Homo sapiens: one gene and its partner. The protein of the gene in region 2 interacts with the protein of the main gene of each other region in a pairwise test. Each region holds a gene or a part of one and is shown on either strand. Other genes may lie near its edges.

The links.
Region 1: the proteins of BRWD1 (region 2) and FNDC3B interact in binary tests that used the Homo sapiens proteins (3 or more experiments, as listed by UniProt).

The regions. Positions count from the first base shown.
Region 1 is NC_000003.12:172,042,578-172,050,062, reverse strand, and holds part of FNDC3B (fibronectin type III domain-containing protein 3B), read right to left. Parts: intron 1-7,485. UniProt on the Homo sapiens protein: May be a positive regulator of adipogenesis.
Region 2 is NC_000021.9:39,310,075-39,319,190, reverse strand, and holds the start of BRWD1 (bromodomain and WD repeat-containing protein 1), read left to right. Parts: upstream 1-5,558; 5' UTR 5,559-5,699; coding exon 5,700-5,748; intron 5,749-5,891; coding exon 5,892-5,950; intron 5,951-6,089; coding exon 6,090-6,119; intron 6,120-6,290; coding exon 6,291-6,350; intron 6,351-9,116. UniProt on the Homo sapiens protein: May be a transcriptional activator. May be involved in chromatin remodeling. Plays a role in the regulation of cell morphology and cytoskeletal organization. Required in the control of cell shape.

The DNA.
Region 1 (7,485 bases), on a different chromosome or scaffold from region 2:
ATGCAATCATTAGATGCCAGAGACAAGTTCAGATGAATAAAACAGAATTTATGTGTTTTCTTTCACTCTATCCCTTTTGTAACTTGGTTTTACAGTCTAAGGAACTAAAGAATTCTAACACCTAATGCATTTCCAACATGAGTACAGAGATGACTTACACCATTTCTCTTAAACAGAAATCAAAGTTTTTCCACAGTACTAATGATGTCAAGAATGAATAAAATGTTTAAAGGTTAGGCCAGGCACGGTGGCTCATGCCTATAATCCCAGGACTTTGGGAGGTAGAGGCGAGCAGATCACCTGAGGTCAGGAGTTTGAAACCAGCCTGACCAACATGGAGAAACCCTGTCTCTACTAAATATACAAAATTAGCCAGGGGTGGTGGTGCATGCCTGTAATCTCAGCTACTCGGGAGACTGAGGCAGAAGAATCGCTTGAACCTGGGAGGCAGAGGTCAGGGTGAGCCGAGATCGCGCCATTGCACTCCACCCTGGACAATAAGAGCGAAATTCTATCTCAAAAAAAAGAAACAAAAAACAATGTTTAAAGGTTAGAAAATGTGACAGGTCCGAGTGTACACCTACTACTGGATTTCTAAATGACTCGCTGTGCTATTCAGGATAGATTATCTTCATGTGCTTACATGGTCTGCCAATATTAACAAACTCCCTGATTCATCTCAATATTAAAATGCCCTTTTTTCCCCTCCAGAGATCTACTTTTAAACATTTTCCTCTTAAATTTAAGTCAGTTAATAAAATAAGGAAACTCTCTGATCTCCAAAAAATGGCCTAGGGAAATCTCCATTTACACTGCAACAGCCAGATGAAGAAAAAATAACTATATACCTGCCTGAAGCAGACCAAGGGGGAGTAAAGAGGCATATGGAGACTGTGTAGGATACATCTTCAATATTTACTTTTGCATTTTTTAATTGTCATAAAATATACATAACAAAAAATTTACCATTTTCTGCATTCAACTTAGTGGCATTACATACATTCATAATGTTGTACAACCATCGCCACTGTTCATTTCCAGAAATTTTTTATCATCCCAAACAGAAATTCTAAACCCATGAAACACTATCTCTCCATCTTCCCTTCCCCCAAGCCCTGGTAATCTCTATTCTACTTTTTGTCTCTATGAATTTACCTATCCTAGTCATCTCATGCAAGTGGATATATACAATATTTATCTTCTTGTGTCCGGCTTATTTCACTTAGCATAATGTTTTCAAGATTCATTCATGTTATGGCATGTATTAGAACTGCCTTCTTTTTTATGGCTGAATAATATTCCACTGTACCAAAATATTCCAATATATAATACCATATTTTGTTTATCCATTCATCTGTTGATGGGCATGGGTTGTTTCTACCTTTTAGGTATTGTCAATAATGCTGCTATAAACACTGGCTTTTAAGTACCTGAGTCCCTGCTTTCTTTTGCGTATAGGAATAGGAATGGAATTGCTGAATCATATAGTAATTCTATGTGTAAATATTTATGAACTACAGAACTGTTTTCCACAGTAGCTTTATCATTTAACATTCCCAACATGCAATACACAAGGATTCCAGCTCAATATATTTAAGTATTCTCTAATTCACTACTTCAGAATAATGTTTACCTCTATTTCTTAATCAGAATTATTTTTCTTGAGATTAAAAAAACCATGATCGAAAAATCAGAAACAGCATCTAAAGACTTTTATTATTTTCTTTCCCATTGAATGACTTAAACAATAAAAGATATAGAAGGTATAGAATGGGTTTTTTAAAACCTTTAAAATACTAAGAGAAAATGAAGCATAATATCCTAGAAATACATTAAGTATCCTATATGTACAACTTGTACTGTTAAAAACTGGTCAAATCTGACCCCTAAGTAGACACATACTAGAAAACCTCGCATCTGAGTGACTGAGTATAAAACGTAAAATATCCAGAAATCTTTTAAAAGAAACTTACTCTTATTACTGGCAAGTTCATACAGTACCTGGAACTAAGCTGCCCAGGAGGATCTTGCTTTAGTAAAAGTAGAGGAGAAGGACATGTAATTACCTTATCTAAATACTAAACTCAGGACTCTCCACAATCTTGCCCAAACACAAAGGCAGAAGAAATGAAGCTAAAAGCAATAATGATGCTCTTAAACCTTTAACACCTGCTGTCCCCAATCTGCCATCAAATGCTTACACATGACAAAAGAAGTTAACAAGTAGCAAAACAAATGTCAATAGAAAAACTCCAAAACCAATAAATAGGCATAGTTGGAGTCTATTGGTAGAGTGGAGTGGGGTGGGGGAGGCAGATATTGTGTTTATTGTTGTGATGTATTTTGCAAGCAAATAATATAGTTCTACCCATTGCTGGTAAACTGTTTGTAGTTCACATAATAGCATTGAGTCAATCAATATTTATTTCATGGCAATCCACAGAGAGCACTGACTTTCCAGGGGCTCCTGTATCTCTATGAAAAGACCACCAGCAGACCAGCATCAGTGAATGCATTCTGCATTTTTACACTGCTTTTAAGTAAATTGATTTTCCCAAGGTGCTTAAAAGTGGTTTGTTCTTTTAATTAGGTAAATATTCCTCTTAAGATCTATTTAAACTTGATATTTACAGTAAAACCTTTTCATACAGAATAGGCAGCCAAACTTTATCCTAGCCTTGCCTAGATAATTGCAAATCCCTAATTAGCTACATCTAGAACAATGGCGTTATTTTTAATAGAGACCCCTCTTTCATAGGCTATGGGGAATCTTAAATCCCTTAAAAATAAATTAAACCATTATATTTCCTGGGATCTTAGAATCTTCAATTATTTCTAAAACATCCCACCTTTGTTCATGTATAAAGATCACTTTCTACACAATTATTTCAACAGAAAGCTTTTCATAATTGTGAGTTAGGATCATGTCAATTTAAGTAAGTTTTTATGACTAGTTGGCCTTTATGAAAATCTTTACTACTCTTTCCAGGGTCAAAACAAAGATGTATCCTTACATTCTAATATAATTTAGAAGCCTTAAAGTCTAACACAGCCTGAAGGTGCTCCAATTTTACTATTTCTCAAATTTCAGAAGGTAGCAAAGAGTTGAACTTACCACCATCCAGCCTTAGGAGTTTGGTGGTAGACACTGTTCTCTATACAAGATTCCAAAAACATCAGAACAGAGTAGAACATTCCATTAACAAAGAACCTGGTCTAGATCTCAACAAATGCATTCTGAGTCAATAAACAAGTAACTGAAATGAAATTACATTTTAAGCTCAAATAGAATCATTTAACACAAGACACACTTTGATACTTACTAGAACCTCAAATAACACTGTGACTCAACACCATCTCAGAAAAATCCCCTACCACCCTGCAAAATGGTTATTTGAAACTGATGAGGTATTTTAATGATATTATAAAAACAAAACAGGGCCGGGCAAGGTGGCTCATAACCTATAATCCCAACATTTTGGGAGGCTGAAGCGGGGGGATTGCTTCAAGCCAGAAGTTAGAGACCAGCCTGAGCCACAAAGTGAAACCCTGTCTCTATAAAAATAAAAAAAAAAACATTAGCCAGGCATGGTGGCGTGAACCTATAGTCCTAGCTATAGCCCTACTCAAGGATCACTTGAGCCCAGGAGTTCGAAGCCATAGTAAGCTATGATAGAGCCACTGCACTCCAGCAGCAGTGAAACACTGTATCTTAAAAAAGAAAAAGAAAAAAAATTAGGAGCCAATGTCTAAACTGACACTGAGTAGTGAGTGCCAAGGGCATCAGAAATTCTGATCCAACACTTACAGAATGCTAAACTTGCATATCTTAACTGGGGAGAAACAAAGAAAAATTCAACAATCGATCCATTTTCAAACTGACAAACATCCTCATCTGTATGTAGATGGCTGATCACGACTGTCTATCGATCTTATGTGATTTATACTTGGTGGTTTTAAAAACATTTCTGTCCCCTGATCTTCAACTGGCACCCCACATACCTTCTGTTTCCAAGAACTGGTCCTTGACATTAAACCTGCACCACAAACAAACTCCCCTCCAGGTGAGCTTGTTACTAGGGTCTGGCATCTCACTGGAGGTACCTTGCAAAGTGCTCAACTACCATCAAGTCATCCTTCCAGTTGGGCCTGTGCTTGTCTACCTGCCCCTATCTAGCCACAATAATTCAAGCATTCTCTCCCTCTTTACAACACATAATGCCATAACCATAATATATATTTTAAGGCAAAGTGTATATATATATATAGAGAGAGAGAGAGAGAGAGAGAGAGAGACACTCAGTAAACTAAAGTACAAAGCTTCTCCTCAACCACCTAAGTGAATTCTCAACAGCCTTAAGAGTGAGAATTAATTTACTTGAAAATAATGTCTTACCATATAAATATCCCACTTAATGGATTAACCTCGTTAACAAGAAGAAAAGGCAATTGTGATTTCTAAAGTGGAAAGGCAGGTAGGTTGCAAAGACTCCCCTACACTGAAAATACGATTCTTTTCCATTCTCAGCTGTAATTGCTGAAAGCTCAAGTAATAGGCTAAGGTAACATACAAGGCCTAAAACCTTATTCCTTTATCATTCAGTACTGAACGTTCCTCTAAGAGACTGCACTTTTTCCCGCCACCTCAAAAACAGCCCTGAATCAAGCCTGGCCTGCCCACTTCAGCAACACTAGCCCAGCTACAGACCAGCTTCCCAAAAACACAGATATGGGACAACTTATGTATAGTACAACTTTGCAGAGGTCACAAATCACCTATTCCATTAGGAGTGGGGTAAAATAAAATACAACATCTAAAGCTTGGACCTTGTTTACTGATCACAAAGAGAAAAATAAATCATTTTTCAAACTGTCCAAGCACAATTTGGAGGTCTCTGAAAATGTGCAGAGAAATACCATAGCACCAGCTCAGTTTTAAACTCTGGAATATAATGAACTATGGAGTTTGTATAAGGCTTTGCCAAACACTTCTCAATACACTGACTCATTAATCCCTTGTGACACCATTTGAAAAGGTACGAGTTAGATCTTTCCTCCTTATATTAAAATGAGGAAACCCAGACTCAGAGAGATTCAAAAGCTTATCAAGGACCCAGCTAGAAAGTAAAGTCACTCCTTGACAGAGGAGATATTCTGATTTCAAACTGATGCTCAGATGTGGCCCTCAATTTTTGTCCATCATTTAAACATCTTTATGCCTTAAGATTATAGTACATTTCTCATTTGTATTAAGCACTTGGGGATGTCCTACAAATCAAACCATATGTCATGGGTTAAATCATGTTTCCTATATTTGTCACACTCACTAGGACACTATAATTCTATTTATAACATGGTTCTTATCCTGAAAATAGTACAGTGGTATCTTATCCTTGAAAATAGTACAGTGGTCCCAATGGTCAGGAATGGGTATGAACAGGATGTTTCAGTTATCTGAACAGTCTCAGTAACTGACGCCTTACCTGCAGTTGAATTAACGATTTTCAAAGAGCTGGAAGCAATGTAATTCACATAACACTAAAATAACATAGAACAATTCAAAGATAATTTACAGACATAGGTCCTCCAGGATATGTCTAGAGTTAAGACTATGAACTGCAATTATCCCAGGACAGTACCATAACTATGGAAGATACAATAGATTCAGATATATTTATACTGAACCTGGCAGTTGCCTCTTAAAAATCCTAATAAAAAGAGATTACATTATAATTTGCCTTTTCCTGAGGGTAGCACACCAAAAAAAAAAAAAAAAAAAGAGTTGGAATTTTCACTATTCCATACAAAATCAGAAAGTTGTTGAAATTCCTTTTAGCAAATGAAACTCTAAAATTCAATGAATTTAAATTAAATCCACTAATCAGAAAATGATTTGAACATCTGCCATCGGACAGATCTTTCTTACTGTTTTAATCTTACACATATTCTTCCCAATTCATGGATGAATCCAATGTGTTTGATATTTGATTTCTATACACTGAGAGTAAAAGAATAATTTTAATTCTTCAGGTTACTTCTGCAGCTACATAAGGAAAAGTGAGTAATGGTTTACTGATACTTACAAAGTCTGAAAAGAACTGTCCAATGAACGGATGGACGCGGGTATGAGAGGATCGTTTTTTTCAGCTTTCTATTAGTGACTTTTCATATTGCTTCCTATTTGTACTCTTATTACACTAAAATAACCAACAAGTTCTGACTACTTTTTCAGCAATTCCTATGCACAATTCCTATATTAAACCAAAAAAGATACAATTTAAAGATTTTTCCACCAGTTTTAACTATGACATGTAAACATTGTTTTTAAAACCAAAGAGTTAACAAATAATGTGCGTATTTTATCCACTCTACATATGAAAGCAAAGTTGAGCTATAGCTAACTCAGTCTTTAAATTCCATTTAAGGGCTGAATGTAACTTCTGATATCGTAGAAGAAAGAAAAATGAACTAAGAGATCTAAAGAGCAGTATGCAGCCTGGACAACCTAGTGAGACCTGTCTCTACAAAAAAACAATAATAATAATAAATAGCCTGGCATGGTGGCGTGCACACCTGTAGTACCAGCTACTGGAGAGGCTAAGGGGAGAGGATCACTTCAGCCTGGGAGGTGGAGGCTACAGTGAGTGAGCCAGTGATCATGCCGCTGCACTCCAGCCGGGGTAACAGAGCGAGAGTCTGTCTCAAAGTAAAATAAAGAGCAATATGACCAAGCTACATGTGAAAGATTTGGGAGTCAAAAAGTTCTACACTTTGCTCTCCAATATGGTAACCACTAGCCACAAGTGGAAATTTAAGTTTAAAATAATTACAAGTAAATAAAACTTAGTCCGGGTGTGGTGGCTCACGCCTGTAATTCCAGCACTCTGGGAGCCCGAGGCGGGTGGATCACCTGAAGTCAGGAGTTCGTGACCAGCCTGGCTAACATGGTGAAAACCCGTCTCTACTAAAAAATACAAAAAATTAGCCGGGCGTGGTGGCAAGCGCCTGTAATCCCAGCTACTCGGGAGGCTAAGGCAGGAGAATCGCTTGAATCCGGGAGGCGGAGGTTGCAGTTAGCCGAGACCGCGCCACTGCACTCCAGCCTGGGCTACAGAGCGAGAATCCATCTCAACCAGCAAGGCGGAGGTTGCAGTGAGCCGAGATTGCGCCACTGCACTCACTCCAGCCTGGGCGACAGAGCGAGACTCCATTTCAAAAAAAAAAAAAAAAACTTAAACTGTTGTTCCTCAGTCCACTAGCTACATTTCAAAGACTCAGTTACATGTGGCTTGTGGCTGCTATGCTGGACAGCACAGACAGAACCATTTCCAACACTGAAGAAAATTCCATTGGATGACACCATTGGTAGCTACGTGATCTTATGCAAGTTACTCTCTCTCTGTAAATCTCAATCCCCTTGTTTGTAAAGTGTGCATAACACAACCTAAATCGAAAATACTAGAATTTTAATGAGATAATGTATAA
Region 2 (9,116 bases):
GATGACACCACTAGTAGGTGGAGGAAGGGCATCAGGAATTAAATGCAATATAATATCTACTAGTGACTAAGGGCTTATCAAAAGATCAGATACCTTCTTCATTTTTACTTTGAAAGTCCTCCAAAAATCGATCAAAGTCCAGGTGTGGTGGCTCACGCCTGTAATCCCAGCACTTTGGAAGGCCAAGACAGGAGGGTCACTTAAGGCCAGGCAATGCAGTGAGACCCTGTCTCTAAAAAATAAATAAATAAATAAAATCTATCGAAGTGTTAACTCTCCTCTTCCTAGGGAATTTATCCAACAGAAGTCCAGGAAGATCAAGGCGGGAGGATCACTTGAGGCCAGGAGTTTGAGACCAGCCTGGGCAACAGAGCAAGACCCGCATCTCTAAAAAACAGTAAAAAATTAGCCAGGCATGGTGGTGCACACCTGTAGTCTCAAGTACTCAGCGGTAGGACTGCGAGGCTGCAGTGAGCTCTGACTGTACCACTGCACTCCTGCCTGTGTGACAGAATGACATACTGTCTCTAAAGCGGAAAAAAACAAAACAAAAAACAGCCCAGGAGCCAGGGAAGACTTTTAACACATATTTTGTTGAATGAATGAATGAAGTGATCCAGGTTTTTGTGTGCATTTAATTTCACCTCTAGGTGCTGATCCAGTTTGTGGTATAGTGTTCTGGAGGTCCAACGTCATCTACTTCCTGCCCTTCAGAGGTATGCTGATGTTGTGTGTACATCAACATCAGCACAGCCTCCTGAATGAACCTAAATTCAGTTAACACAAATTTGCATTAAAACTAATATTAGGCTTTGGATTAGGTATCTGAGTTGTTTTGCATGTTCTCCATTGCTCACAGATTTCCTTATCTCATTTTTCAGAGTCTTTTGAAATGGACTCTAATCTACTAATTCATTCCATTTTGACCACTCTCTTATGTGAATTGTTGGAACCAGACTTCTTTGGTCACCATTTTCTAGATATGCATTCATATTTAACGTTGTTGGGCTTCCTAAGTGGTGATTTGGAAGGCCTTACTGAATTTTATTTTCCTCTCATTCACAGACAGATTAAAAAAAAAAGCTTTCCATTTTTAGGCAAATTCTTAAACTTTATTAGCCTTAGTTCCTCATTCTTTTTTGAGACAGGGTCTCGCTCTGTTGCCCAGGCTGGAGCACAGTGGTACCACCATAGCTTGTGACAGCCTTAAACTCCTGGGCTCAAGTGATCTCCTGCCTCAGTCTCCCCAAATAGCTCAAACTACAGTCACCCAACACCATGCATGGACTAAGTTTTTAATTTTTTGTAGAGAGAGGGTCTCACTATGTTTAAGACCAGCCTTGAACTCCTGGGCTCATGCGGTCCTCCTGCCTTGGTCTTCCAAAGTGCTGATAGCACAGACGAGAGCCACTACGCCCAGACTAGTTTCCTCATTCTTAAAATGGGAATAACAGAATCTAAGAGTTGCCTGCGGTAAATGAGATTACACACGTACTTATCACGTGGGCTTCCAAATGTCAGCTCTCTGATGCGCTAGCTGTGCAATCCTGTGTAAGTCTCCTAATTTTCAGGTCCCATTTCCTCTTTTGTGAAACGTGGCCAAGGGAGAATGGACTTTGCAGTGTTTGTGTTTCAGTCTAAGATAATACTGTCTACTTGGGATTGCAGTCCAGCCACCACTTACCAGCTATATGCCCTTGGGCCATACTTCCTCTGCGCCTCAGCTTGAGCCTATCAATGACATCTAAGAGCTGTTTATCCAGTCAGGAGTTGCTTGCCACGGCATAAGATGTTGGTTCCCTTGAAAATGCAACCCTATAGCTTAATGTCACCCACTGTTAAGATTTTCCAACACTTGCTTACCATGTAGCTTTCTTGTGGTGAAACTCTAAAGTTATTTCCATTTACCCAAAAGCAAACCTCAGTGTGTACATATGGAATGGCTGGGATTGAATTGTGTGAGGAATACACAGATTCTTGCCTTGTTTGGAGACCACTTCTGGTGGGTACCCACTAAGGAGTTGCTCCTGGACAGTGTATTTCTTTTTCCTCCTCCTGGCAGGCAAATATGAGTCACATCTGAGTCTCTTGACATATGGGAGTCGAATCGGGAAGATATTCTCTCTCTTGTTAGAAATCTTTGTTCCTATTCAAAATTTAGAAAGAATATTTGTCATGAATGTGATAGTAAGTTGTAAAAGGACTCCCAAGGCTCTTGTAAAGGAAAACTCATGTCATCGTGTCTTTTTTTTGAGACAGGGTCTTGCTCTGCTGCCTAGGCTGGAGAGCAGTGCTGTGATCATGGGTCACTGCAGCGTCAATCCCCCCCGGCTCTAGCCATTCTCATGCCTCAGCCTCTTAAGTAGCTGGGGCTACAGGTACACACCTACCACCCCTGGCTATTTTTTATTTCTTGTAGAGATGGGGTCTTACTATGTTACTCAGGCTGGTCTCGAACTCCTGGGCTCAAGCAGTCCTCTGGCCTTGGCCTCCCAAAGCGCTGGGATTACAGGTGTGAGCCACTGTGTCTGGGCTCGTGTCATCATTTCTGATCTCTTGTAATGGTTATCATGGTGCCAGTATCAGAACGATAATTTTGGACAATGACCAGAGCTTGGGATATAAATTCTTGTAATATCTTTAGGGGGTTTTTAATCTTACGCCCTTGTTACAAAATGAAATGCACAACTCCTTGGTCAATCATTGAAAGTTTAAATTCTCCCCTCTTGATGTCTTTGTCATTTGGTAACACTGGTAATCTTGCAGCATCAGATCACTGTCCCACAGTCATCTATGCACTGTAACTTCAAATAATCAAGTTGTTGCAAGCAGTTACTCATCTTAACAATCTAGCTACCAGCCTGTATGCCCTACCTTATTTGTTGGCACAACCTTGGAAAGCCCCAAACGAGATTTTTGTGGTTTTTATTTCACCCCAACTTCATCTTGCAGATTTACTGTCCTACATACTTCTGATCTTGTCTCTTCTCTATCCTTATGACCAACGCCCTCATGCATCATTTCTTTTCTATTTCAGGGGTATGTTAAGTGCCTCTTGGTCTTAACTTTCTCAAATCCATCCTAAAATAGAAAATGATTCCTTCCTGGCTTAGAATCTTTCAATTGCTCCCAATTTCAACTTCTGACATCATGGTCCCATCCTCTCCAAAGTCACCCCAAGTAGTCATACTAAACTTCTGGTTCCTTAAACTAGAAATCATATTCATGTCTTGGCCCTCTGTTGTTTGTATGTGCGAAATCCCTTTCCACACATTGTAGCCTGGATAACCCAAACTTCCCTAACATTTCCCCCACGCACAGGCAAGCTGATCTTCTGATATATCTCTGCCCTAAATCGTGTCATTATTTGCTTACATCTGTTTCCCCTAAGAGACGCTGAAGTCTTTGATGGCAAAGCTGTGGCTCATTCCTTTTTTTTTTTTAATCTCCATCACTTGTTAGTGCTTGCTGAATTAACAGATGTAAGGAGTTAACTTACTGTTGCACTAGCTCAAACATATTTAGATTGTTACCTCACAAATAGCTTTTTTTTTTTGGAGACGGAGTCTCGCCTTGTCGCCCAGGCTGGAGTGCAGTGGCGCGATCTCGGTTCACTGCAGCCTCCGCCTCCGGGGTTCAAGCGATTCTCCTGCCTCAGCCTCTCAAGTAGCTGGGACTAGAGGCGCGCACTGCCACACCTGGCTAATTTTTTTATTTTTAGTAGAGACGGGGGTTTCACTATGTTGGCCAGGATGGTCTTGATTTCCTGACCTCGTGATCCGCCTGCCTCGGCCTCCCAAAGTGCTTGGGACTACAGGCGTGAGCCACCATACCCGACAGCCTCACAGATATCTATGTCCATTTATAAATATATATAAAAGCTTTTGGCCAGGCGCAGTGGCTCATGCATGTAATCCCCAGCACTTCGGGAGGCCAAGGCGGGTGGATCACCTGAGGCCAGGAGTTCGAGACCAGCCTGGCCAACATGGTGAAACCCGTCCCTACTAAAAATATAAAAATATAAAAATTAGCCGGACGTGGTGGCGCTTGCCTGCAATTCCAGCTACTCGGGAGGCTGAGGCACAAGAATCGCTGGAACCCGGGAGGCAGAGGTTGCAGTGAGGTGAGATCGCGCCACTGCACTCCAGCCTGAGAGCAAGACCCTGTCTCAAAATAAATAAAAGCTTTTGCTATTTGGTGTAAATAAAAGCCAACTTGTACACGGTGCTTACTGTATACCAGGAACACAAATTCATTAAATCCTCACAACTTTGAGACAGGCACAAATATTATCTGTTTACTAGTGAGGAATTACCTACGGTTTACTAGTAAGGAACACTGAGACCCACAGGTTGTGACTTGCTCAAGGTCAAGCTGGTGGAGCCAAGACAAGGTGCAGGCAGTGAGTCCTGCCCTAGAGTCTGACCCGAACCACATTTAACGTCTATGTGGTGTGTAGGTTATTGCCATGAGTAAGAATCAGAATTGTTAACGCGCATTCCAGGAAGGCAGGGACACCACTGAGTGTTACTGCTGTACTTTAGGGGCCAGAGCAGGGCAGGCTGGATGCGCGGAGGAAACTCATAGTTAGGTCAGAAGCCTGGCAAGACAAGGGAATTTTCTGGTCGTCGTCCACCTCTCCAACCTCACATCCTACTAGTCTTCCAAGAGGATTCTAACTGCACATGACTCCCTAGTTTCCGGCTTCTCTTCCTAAGGAGGGTCTGCGGCCCGTCTGCACCACCCTCTCCCCACAGTCCCGTTTTCCTGTCCATGCTTGGATGGATCCAGCCGAGCCGTCAGCCGCAGCTGCGCGCTGCTCCCCCGACTCGCACCCCCTCGGCGAAGCGCTGCATTTTATGTAATTTTCTGCCGGGCTGCTGGCTTGTGGGGGATGTGGCTGGGTCTCGGCAGCCTTCAGCGCCGCAGACGCTCCGGCAACGCCAGCATACGAGGCCCCCGCCCCAGGAGCGCGGGTCCGGGCGGCGTTCCCCTCTGCGGGAGGCGCGGCGAGCCAATCCTCACTTTAAAAGCTTTCCTGTCCTCGAAGCGAGGGGTCTTCCGTGCGGGGCAAGACGCACTGGCCCCAGACGACCGGTCCGTGAAATGACCCTTCCGAGCGACCCGGAGCGGGCGACCTTGCCCAACCCGCGACTCGGGGCCCCTGCGGTCCCGCGTAGAGGACCCAGGTCCCACGGGGGGCGGCGGTGAATCGCCCCCTCTTGTGGCCGCGCTTCCGCCCCCGGCACCCGCCCGCTGCTGGGCCACCCGGCGTCGCGCTGCCGCCTCACAAAGCCCGGGCAGCCGCCTCATTGCGCGCAGGGATTCGGACCACGCGCCCTCCCCTCCCCCACTCGCTGCTGCGGCGCCCAGGTCTTTGCCTCCGCGTCACTTTCTCCTCATCGAGTCCCCGGAGGCAGAGAGCTGAGCGAGGTTCGCCTCCCCGGGCGGGACACGAGCTCCGGTCCTCTCTTGGCGCAAACCCCCGCCCCCCGCGGAGGGACTACTTTTCGTCTCCCGCGGAGGAACTACTTCCTCCCCCGCGGAGGCGTCGGTCCAGGCGGCGCGCACGGTATGGCGGCGGCGGCGGCGGCGGCGGCGCGCGCCTGAGAAGAGGGGACGCCAGCCCGGTCAGGCCTCGGCGCGGCCTACACGCTCCGCTCGCTCGCTCGCTCCCGCCTCCCGCCCCGCGCCCGGCCATGGCGGAGCCGTCGTCCGCCCGACGCCCGGTGCCTCTCATCGAGTCGGGTAAGACGCGAGGCCGTGCCACCCCCGCCCTGGCGCTCCCGGCTGCTTCGGCTTCCCCGGCTCCCCGGGCTCCCCCGGCTCCCCTGGCCCCGTCCCCCTCCCCTCCCCGCCGGGGCTTGACCTGACTCCTTGTCTTCCCGCAGAGCTGTACTTCCTTATCGCCCGGTACCTATCGGCGGGCCCGTGTCGGAGAGCGGCCCAGGTGAGTGCGGGCCCGCGGGCGGCTGCGGACTTGGCGTCCCCAGTGTCCCCGCCGCCGGGGGTCGCGGGTGGTGGGCGGGGGTGAAACGGGAGCGCCCCGGGCCCGACCCCACCCCTGACCGCGCGTCTCTCGGCCGCAGGTGCTGGTGCAGGAGCTGGAGCAGTACCAGGTCTGTGCGCGCCCGTCCCCGCGCTCCCTCGGGTTCCTCCTGCCGACCTTGCCCTGAGGGATGCTCGCCCGCGCCCCCCGCCCGCCGCCCGCCGCCCGCCCCCGGCCCCCCGCCCCCCGCCCCCCCCGCGCCGGAGGGGTGGTCACTCGTGTGCGTTTCGTGTCTTTCCAGTTGTTGCCGAAGAGATTGGACTGGGAGGGCAACGAGCACAACAGGAGCTACGAGGAGTTGGTGAGCATTGGGCACGTTTGCTCCCCGGGTTTTCCGTGCACCGCCCCCCGCCCCCGCCCCTTCCCCTCGCGGGGACCCCGGCCCGTGGGGTGCAAAGTGTGACCCGCACTGGGGGGCGGCCCGGGGATAGCTGCGTTCCCGGCTGAAGATTTTGTTTTGTTTTTGAGGCGGCCAGGTTTGTTTTGGCAGGAAACAGTCATTGGGGGCGGCGCGGGGCGGAGCGGTGGGGGCGACTCGCGGAGGTCCTGCGGCAGGGGTGGGGCTCCAGGTGCGGCCGCCTCTGCGGGGGTGTGGCGTGCGCAGCCAGCCATTCAACTGGGCGGTTTCATTCGCTTCCCCGCTCCACCGCGCTTGTAACTCGCGCTCTGATTGGCCTCGCTGCTCTTGCCCCGCCCGGGTCTGTCCCCCCACTTGTTCCCTAGGAATAGAATCATTGGTCTCTGAAGGTGGAGAAATGTTCTTGTGTTGAGCTTTTTATTTTTTGTTTTGTCAGCAGCGTCATAAAAATCTTGCAGCTGTATGAATATGCCACTGTAGTGCTTGTGCTCCTTTCTACTGTACAATATTTGTTGAACGCAGTAGTTGATTGATGAGTTTCACACTGATCTTGTAGATAACACAATAAAGTGCTTTAAATAGGCACTTTTCTTTTGAGCTCGGTTAATCTTGCATTACAGTCTCATTTCTTTTGTGAACTTGGTTAATGTTTCTATATAACTTGCTTTTATCTATAGTTACAGCAGTTGCAGGGATTCGTTTGTTTTTACTGGAGACATTTTTCAGGAATATATTTTTGCCGTTTCGTTATTAGGATAAAGGAATTCATTAATTGCCAGGCCATATTCAGCATCTTGTATAAGGAAAACAATTGAGAAAGAAAAGAGCTTCTGAGTGATCTTTTACCACAGTTGGAAGACCTGTAACACTTGAGTGGTAGAGTATGGTGGCAAGTGAAAAGAAGAAAAAAAAGTGGTAGAAGATTACTGGTTTTGAATTAGACAACAGAAGAGACCAGAGGATGTGTTATTTCCATGAACAGTTAACACTTGAAGCCTGGTGCAAGTAATAAATAATTTTAATATTTGCTTTCTTAGATTTTGAAGTAAACACTTTAACAGTGGATGTTTTCAAGGGAATGAGTTCTAAAAATTCTGATGGCAATGTGTTGAGTTTGACATTTTGAGATAGTTTATTTTTGTAAACGTTGAGGAAACATTTAAAGGATGCCCTCTTTTAGTTTTCTTCACGGATAATATAGCCTTATCGGTGAAGCGGAAAAGCATTACTGGTTATGACGCTGTTGTCGTGCTACCTGAGAGAAAATAACTTGAAACAAATGTAGTGCTGTAACTACTGGAAAAGTTACTTTTAAAATACATTTATAGGGGCTGGGTGCAGTGGCTCATGGCTGCAATCTCAGCACATTAGGAGGCCGAGGTGGGAGGATCACTTGAGGCCAGGAGTTCAGACCAACTCTTGTCTCCACAAAGAATAAGTAACAGAAAATTAGGCGGCTGTGGTGGTGCGTGCCTGTAGTCCCAGCTATTTCGGAGGCTGAGGCGGAAGGATCACTTGACTCTGGGAGTTTGAGGCTGCATTGAACTATCCTCCTGCCACTGCATTCCAGCCTGGGAGATGGAGCAAGGCCTAGTTTCTTTTTTTTAAAAAAAAAATTTATATAAATTTTTTGGCTTTTGTTGGTAGAATTGCTTAAAACCCTACTTACTATTGTTTAAAATCACTTAAATTCTGTGATAATATGGCTGTGATTTGGCTATGACATATGGCATCTATCATTGCCTCCCTGATTTGGTCTGTCTGGTGGGTGTCCTTTCTTTTTTTACCTTCCTCTCTGCCCTCCAGTCCCCCAGGACTGAGTGATGATGAGCCTCATGTGTAGAGAATTATTCTTTTGTTAATGGTATATGTATCGTTTCTAAACTTTCAAAGTCTTTTAAAAATACCTTATTAAGAAGTATTCCAGGCCAGCTGCGGTGCTAACACCTGTAATCCCAGCACTTTGGCAGGACGCTTGAGGCCAGGAGTTCTAGACCTGCCTAAAGTGAGGTTGAGGATGTAGTGAGCCCTGATCAAGCCACTGTGCTCCAGCCTAGGTGAGCGAGACCCTGTCTCGAAACGCAACAACAAAAAAGAAGTATTTCAGATGTACACAAATGAGAATAATGTAATGCACCGCTGTATATCATCAAATTTGAATAATAATAATTTTTTTTTTTGAGACAGTCTGTTTTGAGGAGCAGCCTCGGCTCACTGCAACCTCTGCCTCCTGGGTTCAAGTGATCCTCCTGCCTCAGCCTCCTCAGTAGCTGGGATTACAGGCACCTGGCTAATTTTTGTATTTTTAGTAGAGATGGGGTTTCACCCTGTTGGCCAGGCTGGTCTCGAACTCCTGACTTCAGGTGATCTGCCTGCCTCTGTGTCCCAAAGTGCTGGGATTACAGGCACCTGGCTAATTTTTATATTTTTAGTGGAGAAGGGGTTTCACCATGTTGGCCAGGCTGGTCTTGAACTCCTAACTTCAGGTGATCTGCCCGCCTCTGTGTCCCAAAGTGCTGGGATTACAGGCGTGAGCCACTGCGCCTGGCCAACAAATTTGAATTTTGAAAGTTACTAACTTGCTATATTTACTTTGGTTTCTGTTTGAGGTATACATATGTTTTAAGAAACTATCAATGGACATCTTCAAACAAAAATAATAGAATAAATGACCCACCCACTAGGTGCCCATTTTCCAACTTCAGTGAT